2 separate regions of the Homo sapiens genome follow, and region 2 is linked to region 1. Evidence: fine-mapped expression QTL. Tissue or cell type: whole blood. Region 1 holds a variant in brackets; the other region holds the start of a gene. All regions are shown on one strand. Distances are between the middles of the regions.

Region 1 (8,100 bases):
CATGTCCCTACAAAGGACATGAACTCATCCTTTTTTATGGCTGCATAGTATTCCATGGTGTATATGTGCTACATTTTCTTTATCCAGTCTATCATTGATGGGCGTTTGGGTTGATTCCAAGTCTTTGCTATTGTGAACAGTGCCACAATAAACATACGTGTGCATGTGTCTTTATAGCAGAATGATTTATAATCCTTTGGGTATATACCCAGTAATGGGATTGCTGGGTCAAATGGTATTTCTGGTTCTAGATCCTTGAGGAATTGCCACACTGTCTTCCACAATGGTTGGACGAATTATACTCCCATCAACAGTGTAAAAGCATTCCTATTTCTCCCGTCCTCTACAGCATCTGTTGTTTCCTGACTTTTTAATGATCGCCATTCTTACTGGCATGAGATGGTATCTCATTGTGGTTTTGATTTGCATTTCTCTAGTGATCAGTGATGATGAGCTTTTTTCCATATGTTTGTTGACCGCATAAATGTCTTCTTTTGAGAAGTGTCTGTTCATATCCTTTGACCACTTTTTGATGGGGTTGTTTTTTTCTTGTAAATTAGTTTAAGTTTTTTGTAGATTCTGGATATTAGCCCTTTGTCAGATGGATAGATTGTAAAAATGTTCTCCCATTCTGTAGGTTGCCTGTTCACTCTTATGATAGTTTCTTTTGCTGTGCAGAAGCTCTTTAGCTTAATTAGATCCCATTTGTCAATTTTGACTTTTGTTGCCATTGCTTTTGGTGTTTTAGTCATGAAGTCTTTGCCCATGCTTATGTCCTGAATGGTATTGCCTAGGTTTTCTTCTAGGGTTTTTATGGTTTTAGATGTTACATTTAAGTCTTTAATCCATCTTGAGTTAATTTTTGTATAAGGTGTAAGGAAGGGGTCCAATTTCAGTTTTCTGCATATGGCTAGCCAGTTTTCCCAACACCATTTATTAAATAGGGAATCCTTTCCCCATTGCCTGCTTTTGTCAGGTTTGTCAAAGATCAGATGGTTGTAGATGCGTAGTGTTATTTCTGAGGCCTCTGTTCTGTTCCATTTGTCTATGTATCTGTTTTGGTACTAGTACCATGCTGTTTTGGTTACCGTAAGCTTGTAGTATAGTTTGAAGTCAGGTAGCGTGATGCCTCCAGGTTTGTTCTTTTTGCTTAGGATTGTCTTGGCTGCACGGGCTCTTTTTTGGTTCCATATGAAATTTAAAGTAGTTTTTTTCTAATTTTGTGAAGAAAGTCAATGGTAGCTGGATGGGGATAGCATTGAATCTACAAATTACTATGGGCAGTATGAGGCCCGACATTTCTTTCCAGGTGCCAAAGCCTCTCCTCTGTGCCTTCCCTCAGACTGCTTGTTGTACAGATGCTCCTTGACTTATGATGAGATTACATCCAGATAAATGCAGGGTGAGCTGGAAATACCAGTGAAAATGCACTGGATCCACCTAACCTCCTGAGCATCACAGCTGAGCCTAGCCCACCTTCAGTGTACTCAGAACGCTTCCACAGCCCAGAGCTGGGCAACATCACCTAGCAGCACAGCACACTGTACGGCATTGGCCCTTTACCCTCCCAACCAGCTGGCTGACCGGGAGACATGGCTCACACCACCACCCAGCATCATGGGAGAATGTGGTGCCACTTTCTACTGACCGCCTATCACTTTTGCACCATCATAAAGTCGAAAAATCACAACTAGGGGACCATCTTTACTTTGAATGCCCTCCCCCTATCCCATCTTAAAGGCAGATTACTTAATAAAGAAACCCTGAGAGCCTGGTCAAAGGTAATCTATCCCTTCTCCTAAAAAAAAATCCTACATTACAGTTGCAATTCTACTATATTAATAAAAGTAATTAATGCTTATGAAAAAAACTGAATCTCACAGGAGGGAAGAAAGTGAAAAGCAGGAGCTCCCTCAGCCTCCTGAGCCCCAGCCGCCCTTCTCCAGAGATGACCGCCAAAGCACAGCTGCCACGTCCCCGCCCCGTGTGGAAATGGCCTGTGCACATACAAGGCTATACTGTGCTGAGGCTCCCATCTGTTCCTTGAGATCTCCAAGGGAAAAAGGATTAAAGAGAGGTTAGAACAGAACCTTGGGGAAATGGGGCTGGTTGGATGGGTCTGAGAGAGGAAAATAACTGAAAGGGAAGAAGAGAGTCATGGGCACCCAGGGAGGGGACAGTGGGAGGTGTGGGGCAGGCGTGTGCACCTAGGACGGCAGGGGTTCAAGAAGGGCTACAGCTAAGAACAAAATCAGTGGAGGTGACTGAGGAACAGCTGAGTGGAGCAGCAGGGGTGGAATAAAGCCCACGTGTATAACAATGTCTCTTCCACGCGGGTCACTGTCCCAAACACTTCCCACTCAGTGACTCACTTCATCTTGCCCAGAGTGCCCATTTGCAGATGAGGAAGCAGAGGTGCCGAGCACTAAGTAGTCCAAGGTCACACAGCTACTCAAAGGTAGGACAGGCCTCCTCCAAGGTCACACAGCTACTCAAAGGTAGGATGGACCTCCAACCCTGGGAGACCTGCTGTGTGCTAAGCTCTGAGATCAGGCCAAACCACAGCTGGCCGCAGGGCAAGCAGGAGGCGAAGAGGTGGGGCAGAGTGGCAGGCCTCCCTGACAAGGCTTACACTGAGAGAAACTTCCAGAACATGGAGGAGAGAAAATACACTGAAAGAGGAAATGAGGGGGAACCGGGAGCCCGGGCCCTGTTTTGTCCTGGGATAATGGTAGCCAGCGGGGGTCTCAGGGCAGGCAGGTAGGATGGCTGCTCTGGAGGAAAGCAGTGCTTCATAGGCAGCACCTTTCAAAGTCCCCTTCGAAGCTCCATGCTGGCATTGCGGGCCCTTCCCTTTCCTGTCCCCCACCTCCACTTGCGGGCACCGCCCCCTCCCACACCTTCTCCTTCTGGGCAGATCTTAGGGCCCTTGCTTGACTGGGCCTGGGCTGGAGACGTGGAGGCATCTGCCACACTGAGTCTCTGCTGCAGCCGACGGTGGGGGCACAATGCCCGTGAACCCCATGACCATTTTCTCTCTTCTATTTTCTTTCCTGGACACTCTGACAGTGGGGCAGCCAGCCTCCTTGGAAAGAACATGGGTGGGGAACAGAAACTGGGGTTGTAAGGTATGCCCCACGCACCAGGCTCAGCTCTCTCCAGGCTGATTTGGGAGCTGCCGGTGTGTTTAGGAAACATGCAAATGGGCTGCCAGGTAAAATATAGACCACCCAACACAATCTGGATTTCAGACAAGCAAGGAATCATTTTTCGGTATACATATGGCTCAAATATTTTATAAAACACACTTATACTAAAAAAAGTATTCATTGTTCATCTTAAATTTAAATTTAAATGAGTGTTTTCTATGTTTATTTGCAACATCTGGCACTCTATCCTCAAACACAAACACCCAGCCTGCCTCCCAGGACTTGGTCAAAGAGAAGCTCAGGCTGCTGCTATGCCTTTGATCTGGTGCACCTACGTTACATTCTGTGCTCCAGGAATAAAAGAAATCTCTGAGCTCCCTCAATTCACTGTCTGAGAAGTTAAGAAGTCCCTCCTCTGGATCTCCATGGGTAGTAATGGAGGGGAGGGAGAGAGGAGTTTGGTGATTTGAAAGCAGCTGGACAAAGGACTTGAAACAGAATACTAGGTGCTTCTGGGAGGCCCCTAGAAGCAGAAGTGACTTGACTGTAGACTCTTGAATTTTCAAGGTGAGGCCATGTGTGCAAAGGAAAATTGGTGGTGTCGTCACCAACATGGAGAGTCAAGAGAGCTGAATCTGGCATCAGTGACTGCCAGGAGACCCTTCTGGGCCCTACTGTGTGTCCTACCTCTTTACTCTGCACAGAACCATGGAAGGGGCCAGAGAAGAGGCTACTAAGGGTGGATGGGTAAGGCCAAGCAACTTATCCAGGTCCACACAGTGAGCTAGAAGGAAAGCAAGCCTATGACCCAGCCCCCTGAACCCTTGATATTTCCAGAGAGCTAGGTCTTGGGAAGGTCGAATGACACACCCATTAGCTATCCCTTGAGCATGCTTTCCTCCTTTGTCTTGTCACCTCTCTGTCTGCCACGTGTTGGAAGGCACATGGATCTGGGCAGGGTACCTGAGTCCAGACCACTTTCCCTGAAATTCCCTTCTGGATTTTGGGCTTCACCTTCCTGTGATCTATTCCTTCCAACTTGGTCTCCTTTATATCATTATAAGGGCCCTTTGCCTGTGAGTCAATATATCCTTCAAGGAGAGAGGCTATCCAAAGACATTCAGGACCTGGGGCTCAGGTGTGAAGTGTTGTCTGTTGTCTCTTTGCTTTATACTAATTGCATAGGAAGTCATGTGTGAGGTGGGCCGGCAGATTCTGAAACCTCCATGAAAGCTGCCATGTCATATCATCCATGGCGGGGAAATTACTTTCTTTCTCCTTTTTTTGTTTTTGTTTTTTTGAGATGGAGTTTCCCTCTTGTTGCCCAAGCTGGAGTGCAATGGTGCAATCTCCGTTCACTACAACCTCCACCTCCCGGGTTCAAGCGATTCTCTTGCCTCAGCCTCCCGAGTAGCTGGGATTACAGGTGCATGCCACCACGCCCAGCCAATAGAAAAGGGGTTTCACCATGTTAGCCAGGTTGGTCTCGAACTCCTGACCTCAAGTGATCTGCCCACCTCAGCCTCCCAAAGTGCTGATATTACAGGCATGAGCCACCGCGCCCAGCCATTACGTTCTTTATCTTTGCTTTTCTTTGCTTTCACTTCTGTTAGCAACGAGTTTCAACAGCCATTGCCACATAGTGTTGCATAGGCAGCAACGTGTT[C/T]GACAATGTGCTGTTGACAAGCACATACCACAGAATCAGGAAGACCAGTAAGTATTTCAGGAATTTGCCTGATGGAAATGACTCAAGTCTGGGGCCAGCATGAAATCCTATAAAGCAGTAAGGACACCCACCATTCTCCCTGATTTGAACCTACCCTTGAGGACATGTCTGACTCCATTCATTCACTTAATAAGTACTTATTGAGCATGTACACCACGGCAGGTAGGATTCTAAGTGCCGGGGACACAACTTTGAGAAAATAGACCAAGTCCCTGCCTTTAACTGTGTGTGTGTGTGTGTGTGATGAGAGAGGTGATAAACACAAATGTATCTGGTAACAATAAGTGCTATATAGAAAAATAAAGCAGGGGCTGGGCGCGCTGGGAGGCCGTGGTAGGCGGATCATGAGGTCCAGAGTGGGATCCAGGCTCAGTTGTGAGGAAGGTCTGAAGTGAAGGGAGCATGTTGAACCCTGGCTCATGGCTTGTGATTGAGAACACCATGCAGTGACCAGCCTAGGATTCCATTTTTTTTTTTTTTACATAAAATCAGATGAATAATGAGTAAAAGCACATGAATAATTTTACATTTGACTGTGGAAGCATCTAAACTAAAGGAGGGAGAGAGGGTTGTTCTTGGTTATTCCTTTTTGAGGCTGGGCCTTCATCTTCAAAACCTTCATCTTCAAAATGATTAAAATTGTAGACAAGGCCACAGGATGAGAAGGGTCCAGTGGCTTGGCTCTAGTTATCCTAGGGAGGGGCAGTTCCTTGGGTGTCCATGAACTCAGAACGTGCAAACCTAGTATTGCCTCCCAACTCTCTCCCGGACCCATGTGTCTCCTTTTGAGTTACAGTAATAATGGAGAACAACTGGGCCCTCTGTTTTTAGGCTAAAGGTCAAGACCAGAAAAGACTTGGAACCAAACTGGAAATTCTGCTTCCTTCCCCATAACTCCCTGTCAGCTTGTAAGCACCTTCTGTTCATCCAAGTTTTGGAGAAGACATTGGTCTTGTGTTCTGACAGACCCTGGCCTCCCAAGCTTGCTTTCCAGGGAATCTCAGCAAACCACAAACGGAATGCCCCTGTTGGTTCCGCTTTCATCTACCATTTTTTTCCTAAATAAAACACAATGAAATATTTTATCTTGATCTTGAAATACTTGCACACCAGGACCTGCTGTAGAAGATCCCAAGGTAACAGAAAGTTCATCAAAGAGCACAGACTCTGAGTCAAGAGGTGGAGCACCCAAGCTAGGTTCACCTCTGACCCCTTCCTTACTAACATCATGCCCCTGCGTGAGTCCAAACCATTTCTTGCCTCCAGTGCAGCCAAATGACAGAGGTCAGAAGGGTACCACTGATCTGATTGTTAAGAGGCAAAGATGACTCATACCCTAGAAGCTCTAAAGTACCAAGGCCTGGGTCCATCCCTAAGACTGTTTCCCTGCATTCCCCAGGGCTGGCATGCCTGGATGCTTTAGCATCTCCATCTGGAAACAAGACTCATTCCTCACTAAGTGCCATGGAAAGGCTGCAAAGACACTTTCCCTAGAACAAGGGTTTTAAGCTTTATGCATCCTCAACCTTCTAGTGGGGGCTTTACTTCTCATTCCCCAAAGCCTCAAGGTCCTCTGGGTTGGGGGTGGCAGGCAGGTCTGCAATGGTAACAATCCTAATCACGAAAAGGAGGAAGGTGTCCCCTGTGCTTATTTTTCTCCATTTGCCTTCTCCCTTCATGTTCATTCTCTTCCCTTTGGTGCCCTGCTCTGTGACCCCTGGGGCTGAGTGCTAGGAGCTGAATCACCAGCTTCCTTTGCCTCTAGCTTCCTTTTGTGTCCGGCAAATGTGAGGTACAGGCAGGAGGCTGGAGGTCAGGAGGGTGTCTCTTCCCCTGCTCCCTCTTTGCTCTGGTGCTTGGCTATGGCAGGGACTGTGGCCCTTGGGACCACTGCTCTCACCAGGTGGCCACCTCTATGCTGCCAAGACTCACCAGGCCCCAGTCACACTATTTCCTTTCTTTGCTCCTTTGGCTGAGGGCTGGTATCATCTTCCCACTATTGCTAGTTCCTGGGTGCCTCAACATTCCTGTTGCTGCCCTGAACCCTGCCCGTCCATCTATAAGTTGTGCCTTCACTACATTCTTCTTAGTCAAATCCTTTTGAAAAGAACTCTGTTTCTTGCTGGGACCCTGATTAATATATCTTTCTATATGTATTTCAAAATAAAAACTACCCTAAACGGTAAGGTAAGTATGAGGCTTTCTGACACTGACTCTTTTGAAGCTATGTTGGTGTCCAGAGGATGAACTTGGCTGCCAACTGGGGCATGAGCCTGGGTGCAGGGACTGCTGCTCCTGAAGCTTCTAGAATGAACAGGTCAGGGGCCCTGGGAGTTGCTGAGCCTTCCTCATTGGGAGAATCCCCATTCACCATGGGTGTGTGGCGTTGGGGAGGGAGAGGGGAGGAGATGGAATTATTTCACAATCTACCATGCCGCAAGGCTCTGGGATTCAACGGTCCATTTCAATTTTTCAAATGGGGCCTAAGACCCAGGGAAGAGGCCACAGAGCCCATTTCAGTCCAAATCAGCCAGACCCCAAACCTTTACAGATTCTCATCCTGGGGAAAATAAAATCTGGTGACTGCCAGAGAAATGAGGGGCAGGGGGAGCAGGGAGCAGGGAGGGAGCTTGTCATGTAAGCCTTGGCATCAGACAGCATTTGATTTCTGGCCCTACCATTTAGAAGCTATGAGAACTTGGGAAAGTCACCTAACCCCTCAGAGACTCGAGTCCCTCACTTTCCAGTTGGGAATAAATAAACTCCATATCCTCTAGGATTGTCGAGTCAGTATCTTTGACAGAAAACCCTGGCTGAGAAGCTCCCACTGAGGAGCACCATCTGAAGGGCTTGGCACAATGCCTGGCCTGCAAAAGGCATGCAGGAAATGGTACTTGGTATTATCTAAGTCCATCTCCATGGCTTCCCACTAGAGAAAAAGTCATTGTGGAGAACATACTTGGATGTATGAAGGCAATCAGAAAACCAGTCAATGGCGTGCTTTCCTCTTCTCTAACCTCAGAGTGGATTTGGATGAGAAGACTGCTCATCCCCAACCTCTCTTGCTCCTGGGCTTATTTCCCCAATCCCCCCCACACTTCATAGCTACTGGAGACCAAAAATCCTTGCTAAATTGGCAGGCTTTCCCCCTTCTCTGAGGAGCTCTTGGAATTGACTAACGAGGTTACCACAGGTGCTGCCTTGCTGCCAGCCATGAAAAAATAA
Region 2 (8,100 bases), 210 kb before region 1:
GGTCGTGAGATGGAAATTTACCAAAAATGCAGATTCCCCGGCCCCATCTGGGCCAGGGAATCAGCATTCCAAACTTTAAACAAGGGGACTCCAGGTGTCTCTCTCTCTTTCAACCTGAAGAATTTGGGGGATTTTGCAAATGACCTGAAGCCTGAGAGGAAGTGCAACACTGCAGGGCTCTCAGGAGGGGGTACCCTGCTGACGCCTGTGACTAGGCCTAACCTTCTGGGGTCCTGCGGCCCAGTGCTGCACACTGTCATCTGCCTTGAGGTGCGCCTGGGGTCCAGATTGGCCGATGAATACGTACACCCGCAGCGCCTCCTTCACTCCGAAGACTTTCACTTTCCCCCTTGCACAAAACCGAACATCCCACCCCACCACCACCTCCAAGCTAAAATACCTGGGCCGCCCCTCCCCACGAAGGGACGCGCTCCAGGCGAATGGGGAGGGCCCGGAAGTCGGGCCTGGGACAGAGGAGCCGGCCCACCGCCTCCCGGTCGGAAGCGGCAGTGCAGGTGAGGCGGCGGCCAGCCTGGGGACTGCGCGGGTAAGGAGCGGGAGGGCGGAATGCACCGCGAAGTTGGCGGGGGACGGCCACGCACGCCTCGCCTCGGCCTTCCTGCACCGTAGGGCCGCCCTCCCGCCACCCCTGGGCACCTGTCGACCACGTCTGGGCGAGGGCGGGTCGGCTCCCGCCCTCGGGCCCTCACCGCGGCGGGGACGCCGGGTCAGCGAAGGGTTAAGGGACTCGCTCCCTCCTCTCGGCTCCCTCACCCTTGGAAAGTCCCCGAAATGACGTTTCAACCCGACAATTTAAAAAAGAGTTTAATTATAGAGACAGGCTCTGGGAGCTGGAACAAACCCTTGGTCGGCGGGGCCGGTAAACAACTCGGGAGCGAGCGGGCTAGGCCAGTCGCAGCCTTGCGGAGCCCGCGCCCCCGGGGAGAGGGGGAGGGGAGGGCCTCCGGGAGTTGGAAAAGCCGAGGAAATTCGAGGAATCAGCTTTCTTTGGAAAAATCCACTTTGTAGCCATTCTGGGGCGCCTGATGGTGCTCCTGGCCGGTCCCGCAGCCTTGGAGGGAAAGCGGCGCCGCCCGAAGCAGGGGCATAGCCGGTGCCCCGCGGGGACAGGCCCTGGGCCGGGAAGGGGGCCCCGCCCGCTCCCAGTCCCCTTCCCCTTTGCTTTTTTCCAGCCCCTCCTCCGGTCCCCCCAGCTGAGCTTCGCGAACCCTCGGGAGTTAAAGACCAGCCGGCCTCTTTTTTGGGGGGGGTGGGGGGTGGGGGAGCGGGAATGGGTGGAGGCCGGGGGAATAAAAAACCGAAATAGCTTCACATCAGAACTCAGACTAACCTTGTGGTTTCAACGCGCACTCTGCTCTGTCCTGAAATCTGGAACTCATTACCTCATCACCAAGAAACTGCACGAAATCTCTCCCCCACCGCCCCAACACCCACTTGGGAAAGGAACGAGCAAACATCCCTCTAAGAAAGAAACCTACACTTGAATGATTTAAATTAAGGTGGATGGAAGTTATTTCCCTTTCTGGCGCTTGCCAGATTTCAAGAAAAGCTGAAAAATGGGAGCGGGGGAGGGAAGCAACAGACGGCTGGAGGGCAGCAGCAGAACAAGCGAGGGGCAGCAGCCGAGTTAAAGTGGGGGCCATCCATTTCGGGCAGAGGAGACAAATGAAAGCCGACCCCGCTGGGATCACGTAGGTTCGTGGCTGCAGCAAAAGTTGGGTTTCACAAAGTTGAAAAACAGCCGGTTTCTCAAACAATTGTGATTTGGAAGGTTTCGCTGGGTTTGCCCAGATGTTTACGAATAAATAAGAAATGCAGTTTTAAAAAAAAGTGTGTGTTGGGGGTGGTGAGAATGCGCTCTCTTCGGCCCGCCCCGTCCTTTCCAAAGAAACGTGCTCATAATGGGGTGACCTAATTACATCGCAATGGAACTCAATCTTAGCCACTCCGCAGCACCGGGTTTCATAACAGACTCGGCGGCCTCGAGTGCTGGGAAGAAACGTGCGAGGGCCGAGGGGGGCGGCGGAGCCCGCGTGGAAATCGGAAAGAAGCGCAGCCCTGCGACTTCCGCCTGGGTCATCACGCCAGCAGTCGGGCCAAGGCGCAGGGGGCGGGTGGGGGACTCGTTAACTTTTTATTTGGGTGGGCGGCATCCAAACCTAACAGTATATATTTTATCATTTTCAAGGGAGTCATGCTCCATTGCGGGCCCTTCGGTTTCGTGGCTCCCATGTCCCCCTCTCCACCTCCCGCCAAAACGGCGCAGCGTGACAAGCCATATGTTCCACTCCGGTGGGGGCGAGAGAGAAGCAACAATAAGTTAAAAGTGCCGCCTCCCTCCACCTCTTTACCTTCATTCTTACCAAAGTAACCTTTTTTCATTGTTCTAGAGTCTTGAGGTGTGTGTGGGGAGGATGGAGGAGGAGGGAGGGTTGTGGCGCCGCCCAGAATTCGGAGCGCGCGTGGAAAGTAGTGAGTTGCTCGGTGGGCTTTTTCTGGGAGGAAGGGGCATTCAGGAAGGATTAGGGTTTTCTTGACTAAAAAGTTTAAAGATTGGATGCGTGAAAAGAAACGGCACGCCTAGGCCTGGTAAAACAAACAATCGTCCCGGGTTGTGGTCTTTTTTTGCGGCGCCCCCCACCCGCCCACACCCGGAGAGCGCCGGCTGCAAAGCGAGCGCGAGTGTCGACGCGTGCGGCGCACTAAATTGTGCCGCGCTCGCCCCCGCCAGACCATGTCCTCCTGGGGAAAAAGTTTCCCTAGTCCCCCCAGCAGCGCGCCCCACCCTACGCCCCGCTGGAAAAAAAACAGCAACATAAAATCCTAGGCTTGAACATTCTGTGCGTCCCAAATTTCTAATGTCCTCGGCCTGCCCGGTTTGCCGAAGGGAGCCGAGTGTCGAAGAGAAGTCGGGAAAAGGTAAGTTGTGCAGACACTTGGGGAAGTTTCAAGGAGACCGCCAGCTCAAGATGGAAACCGCGGCCCGGGCGCTAAGGACGGGCTTCAGCTCCCGCTGGCAAAAAGAGAAAGTCGAGCCCGCCTTCCTGCCCAACAAAAAACAACAACATGACAACAAGAACCCCGGAGGGAGTGGAATGAGTGACGTCACAGCCGCGCTCTGAGGCTGACAAAGGAGGGGGCGCGCCCCTCCCGCTCTGCGCCCGCGCGGCCCCGGAGAGGGGGCGCCTGAAGCGCCGGGTAGGGAAGTCAGCCGACTTGAAACTTTTCCTCTTAAAGAAAAAAAAAAAAAAGTTGTGCGCGGCTCACAGTGGGGTTTTTTTTTTCCGCCTTCTTTTCTCGTCTCCCCTCCCCCTTCTTCCTTTTGAAAGTTTCTTCTCCTCCCCCTGCCCCCCCTCCCCGCCTGACCGCATGGCTGATTCAACTCCAGTGTCAATCAACTTCTTTTTCCTCCTCTTCCTCATTTAAATAAGTTTAAAGCTCCTCCTCCCCCCGGCCCACCAAATCTGAACTTTATAAATTGGGCTTTGCGCGCCCCAGCCCGGAGTCAGAAAGGCGAGGGGCGCCGGGAACTGGCGTGTGGGACTCCAGACAGGAGAGGCTGCGCCTTCCCCGCACCGGGACCTTCGCGACACACCAGATCCTCGCCCCTGGCTCGCGCGAACGCACAGGATGACCACCACCCTCGTGTCTGCCACCATCTTCGACTTGAGCGAAGTTTTATGCAAGGTAAAGGGGGGCGGAGCATTTGCTTTTCAAAAAGTCTTTTTCTTTTGCCTTAAGAAAGAACCCCCAAAAGTTTGGGTCTTGGAAGGCAATGGGGAAAGTGGTGCAGCGAGATGATTCTTTTCTCCTCCGGCATTTCTCCCAAGTTTGAAGGAATTTGGCCCCGTCCTTCCCACCCTTTGAGTTTCAACAGTTGCTGGCGGGGATTACATGTGAATCTGGAGGCCAGGGTTTTGAGGGGCGAAGTTTGCCTGGCAGGGCAGCCCGGGGGCTTCGGGGGGAGGGCTGGGATTGGGACAAGTTTTGGGCGATCCTGTTTTACGTAACGTGCTGCTGGATCCCAGGTTTGCTGGTCTGATCGGGTTCCCAGTCTGCGCCCTAGGTCTGTCCAGCGGCATTACCCACCCGTGGGGTTGGGAGTGGGAGGTCCCTCGGGGAAGTGAGTCTCGGGACAATGTTTTCCTCCACTCTTTGGGGGGAGCTGGGGATATGCGAGGAAGAAAGGCCAAGTTGTGATTCAAAAAGATGTTGCAGAACAAGTTTGCAGTGGGGCTTGAGTCCGCCCTAGCTCCGTTGGGCTTCTTCCCGCGATAGCCGATCGTGCAGCAAACTTTGGGGTGAAAGAGGCATTCAGGTTGACCCGCTTACCTGTGTTGCCGAGGCATTGCGGCTCATCGATTGCGGGCGGGGTTGGGGGGGGAGGTGGCGACAAAATGCTGGCTTGAACTCGAGAGTCCCGCGAGTAAGGATTTAATGGGGGGCTCCTTAAAACATGTTGCTTGTCAGCCAGTGTTGAAAAAGCAAGTTTTAAACTCGGAATGTTCCAGGACTGCGGTTTAAATGTACATAGCAAAAGTCTATGGATGTTGTTAAATTTCTTTCCAACCTCCCCCTCCCAATTTGAAAGGGTGAAGCTGCTGGGCTACTTTTTAATTGCTGAAGTGTTTTGCCTTCTCTTAACACGTCGGGTCATGTTGCTCTGTTTTCCCAGCTTGCTGCTCCTGTTGGTGCAGCTGCCAACGCCCCAGGGCTGCAGGGTTGGGGTGCAGGGACGCCGAGGAGCTGAAGAGTAGCATTTAAAAAGTTTGAATTTTTCAGCTTCCTTCCCTCCCTGCACATTCCCAAACTCCACTTGCCAGCCCGGCTGCCAGCGCTCCCCAACATTTCTTCCTTCTTTTCTCGACTCTCCCGCTCTTTGATCTATTTCTTTCTTTGGCCCCCCTCCCCCCTCACGACTTTTTAAATGAACCTCATTGTTGGGAACCAGCTCTCGACTGGGTTCCTGTAATCCTCTCGGTGGGGTGGTTGCAGTTACAGATTCCCGGTCCCCCCCTGCTGATCCTAAGGGACCAACATTAGAATTTGCACAATGACACCCACATGGGCTGGGAACTAACTCCTAGGTCCCTGACCTGCACCATTTCCAAATCTTGGGTACAATTTGGGCAGGTGACCAGGGTCCTATTGGAACAGAAACCTGCCATTGGTGGCTCTGCCCCCATCCCCACCACCCCCAATCCGCTATTGACTAGGAGGTGGGTAGGGGGGTTGGTGCTTTCCTTTTCCTTTCCATCTGCAGCTTTGCGTTAAAGATTAAACACTGGAGCTCTTATCCAAGCTTGCTCTTGCAGCCAAAAGACTAATTGCAAAGGCATCTTCTCAGTGAAGGGGGCGGGGTGGGCTAGGGCTGAGTGGAAATGGTGAGAGAGATTATTGTAGAAAATATCTCTTCCGGGAACTTAGGGCAAAGAGTTTTATTTTCAGGAATCACATCCCTGTCTCCCCCAACCTCAGACCAGGCCCCCAATCTCCTCCCCACAAGAAAAAGCAAAGGCAGTCTGAAAACCTGTTGCCAAAGGAAGGGAACACTTCTGAAGGAGGAAGTTGAGAGTCTTAGGCCAGGTCTTGAAGGAGGGGGTATCAATTAAGCAGAGACTGATTGGAAGGGGACCTAACGTAGCCTATGATAGACTCCTTTCTGAGGTTTACCTGTTTTTGTCGCGGGCGGTGGCGGGGGCGGGGTGCGGTAATCTAGAGAGGTCTGGGTTGTGTGAGATATTTTGAGTTGAAGAATCTATTTGACTAGTAAAAAAGTTGAACTTTAAAGTGGTAGCTTTGGGGACAGAGGACATGGGGGTTGCATTGCAGGAGTCAGCATGGAGCAGGGTGCTTGTCACACAGTTTGGATCTTGTGGTTTCTTACGCATGGGGCCAAAATAAACCCAGGTGAATGGCCTATGGGAGGGAGAGAGGGAAGGGAGCTTGCTAGAGCCGAGGTAGAGATGAGTTCTTTGAGAAAGAGCGGGCGTTTGTGATTGTGTAGGGGGCTGCCCATAGTGGACATCCTGGTGGATGTCCTCTGTCCTTACCATCCTTTCTCTTCTCTCTCCAGGGTAACAAGATGCTCAACTATAGTGCTCCCAGTGCAGGGGGTTGCCTGCTGGACAGAAAGGCAGTGGGCACCCCTGCTGGTGGGGGCTTCCCTCGGAGGCACTCAGTCACCCTGCCCAGCTCCAAGTTCCACCAGAACCAGCTCCTCAGCAGCCTCAAGGGTGAGCCAGCCCCCGCTCTGAGCTCGCGAGACAGCCGCTTCCGAGACCGCTCCTTCTCGGAAGGGGGCGAGCGGCTGCTGCCCACCCAGAAGCAGCCCGGGGGCGGCCAGGTCAACTCCAGCCGCTACAAGACGGAGCTGTGCCGCCCCTTTGAGGAAAACGGTGCCTGTAAGTACGGGGACAAGTGCCAGTTCGCACACGGCATCCACGAGCTCCGCAGCCTGACCCGCCACCCCAAGTACAAGACGGAGCTGTGCCGCACCTTCCACACCATCGGCTTTTGCCCCTACGGGCCCCGCTGCCACTTCATCCACAACGCTGAAGAGCGCCGTGCCCTGGCCGGGGCCCGGGACCTCTCCGCTGACCGTCCCCGCCTCCAGCATAGCTTTAGCTTTGCTGGGTTTCCCAGTGCCGCTGCCACCGCCGCTGCCACCGGGCTGCTGGACAGCCCCACGTCCATCACCCCACCCCCTATTCTGAGCGCCGATGACCTCCTGGGCTCACCTACCCTGCCCGATGGCACCAATAACCCTTTTGCCTTCTCCAGCCAGGAGCTGGCAAGCCTCTTTGCCCCTAGCATGGGGCTGCCCGGGGGTGGCTCCCCGACCACCTTCCTCTTCCGGCCCATGTCCGAGTCCCCTCACATGTTTGACTCTCCCCCCAGCCCTCAGGATTCTCTCTCGGACCAGGAGGGCTACCTGAGCAGCTCCAGCAGCAGCCACAGTGGCTCAGACTCCCCGACCTTGGACAACTCAAGACGCCTGCCCATCTTCAGCAGACTTTCCATCTCAGATGACTAAGCCAGGGTAGGGAGGGACCTCCTGCCTACTCCAGCCCCTACCCTGCACCCACATCCCATACCCTCTTCTCCCTACCCATCCCATTCCCCACAGGCCCTACATTAACAAGGTTAAGCTCAACCCCTTTCCCCCAGCACCTCAGAATGTGCCCTCCCTCTCCCCCTCATAACCCCACCTAACATAAGGACAAGTCAATTTGTCAGTAGCTTCTTCTGGCTTGAAACCCCCTCCCTGGATTTTATAGCCCACTTACCATGCATAACAGACAAGTCCCATATTTTGTCAGTAGATGCCTTTTTTTTTCCGGCTTAAGCCTTAAGTGCCAAATCACAAGAGAAAAAGCAGTAACAGTTTACAGAAGCAACTTAGTGCCTTGTAATCTAACTTTGTCACTGTGACTACATTACCTCTTCAGCGCCAGAGGGCACCCGTGGGCCTCCCGGAGCCTCTGCCCATGGCGGGGTGGAGACCCGGAACCAGCAGCCCCCTCCACTGGCGACACAACTGCACCTTCCCTCATTTCAGTCTCCCGCACACTTATTCCTCCTCCCCTCTTCCCGGTGGCACCTCTCCACCTGTACCCGCCCCCCCACCCCCCCCACCCCTGCCCCTTGGAAGAGTTGTTGCCAGACCAGGGTTTTGGGGGAAACCTGTCTTGACATTCAAAACCTTTTTCTTCCCGATCTGAACCCCTGTTGACTAATCTTGCCTGGGTTTGTGTAGGTCTGCAGGAAGGAAGGCTGAAAAAGCGGACGAAGATTTTGACTTAAGTGGGACTTTGTGATTTAATTTTTTCTTTTTTTTAAGTGGGGAGGAAGGGGAAGCTAGATGGACTAGGAGAGACTTGATTTTGGTGCTAAAGTTCCCCAGTTCATATGTGACATCTTTTTAAAAAAAATAACAACAAAAAAAAAATGAGAGAAAAGCTAAAAAAAAAAAAGTAAGGGGTGAGCAGTTAATGGTATTCATTCCACATACAATATCTGTGTAAAACGATTTCCTGTAGAAGTAGCTTTAATGGTTTTTGCTCTAGAATACCGTAG

What was found. PIP is the estimated chance that this variant, and not a neighbour inherited with it, causes the effect.
Region 2: ZFP36L1 starts here. The variant in region 1 is fine-mapped to the expression of ZFP36L1 in whole blood (TOPMed, PIP above 0.99).

What each region holds. Positions count from the first base shown.
Region 1 is chr14:68,574,761-68,582,860 of GRCh38, reverse strand. It overlaps a transcript of RAD51B not described here. Among named protein-coding and RNA genes, the nearest start is that of RAD51B-AS1, 110 kb to the left of the region's middle. RefSeq lists an enhancer at 6,288-6,457. The variant C/T (reference allele first, on the strand shown) is at 4,816.
Region 2 is chr14:68,788,490-68,796,589 of GRCh38, reverse strand. ZFP36L1 (ZFP36 ring finger protein like 1) reads left to right here and starts at 3,523. Exons shown (of 2, transcript NM_004926.4): 1 at 3,523-3,708; 2 at 6,098-8,100. The coding sequence starts at 3,652. The coding sequence ends at 7,057. RefSeq lists enhancers at 296-355, 1,536-1,695, 1,358-1,902, 5,990-6,605, 6,713-6,792 and 1 more and silencers at 476-795, 3,076-3,275, 3,296-3,365.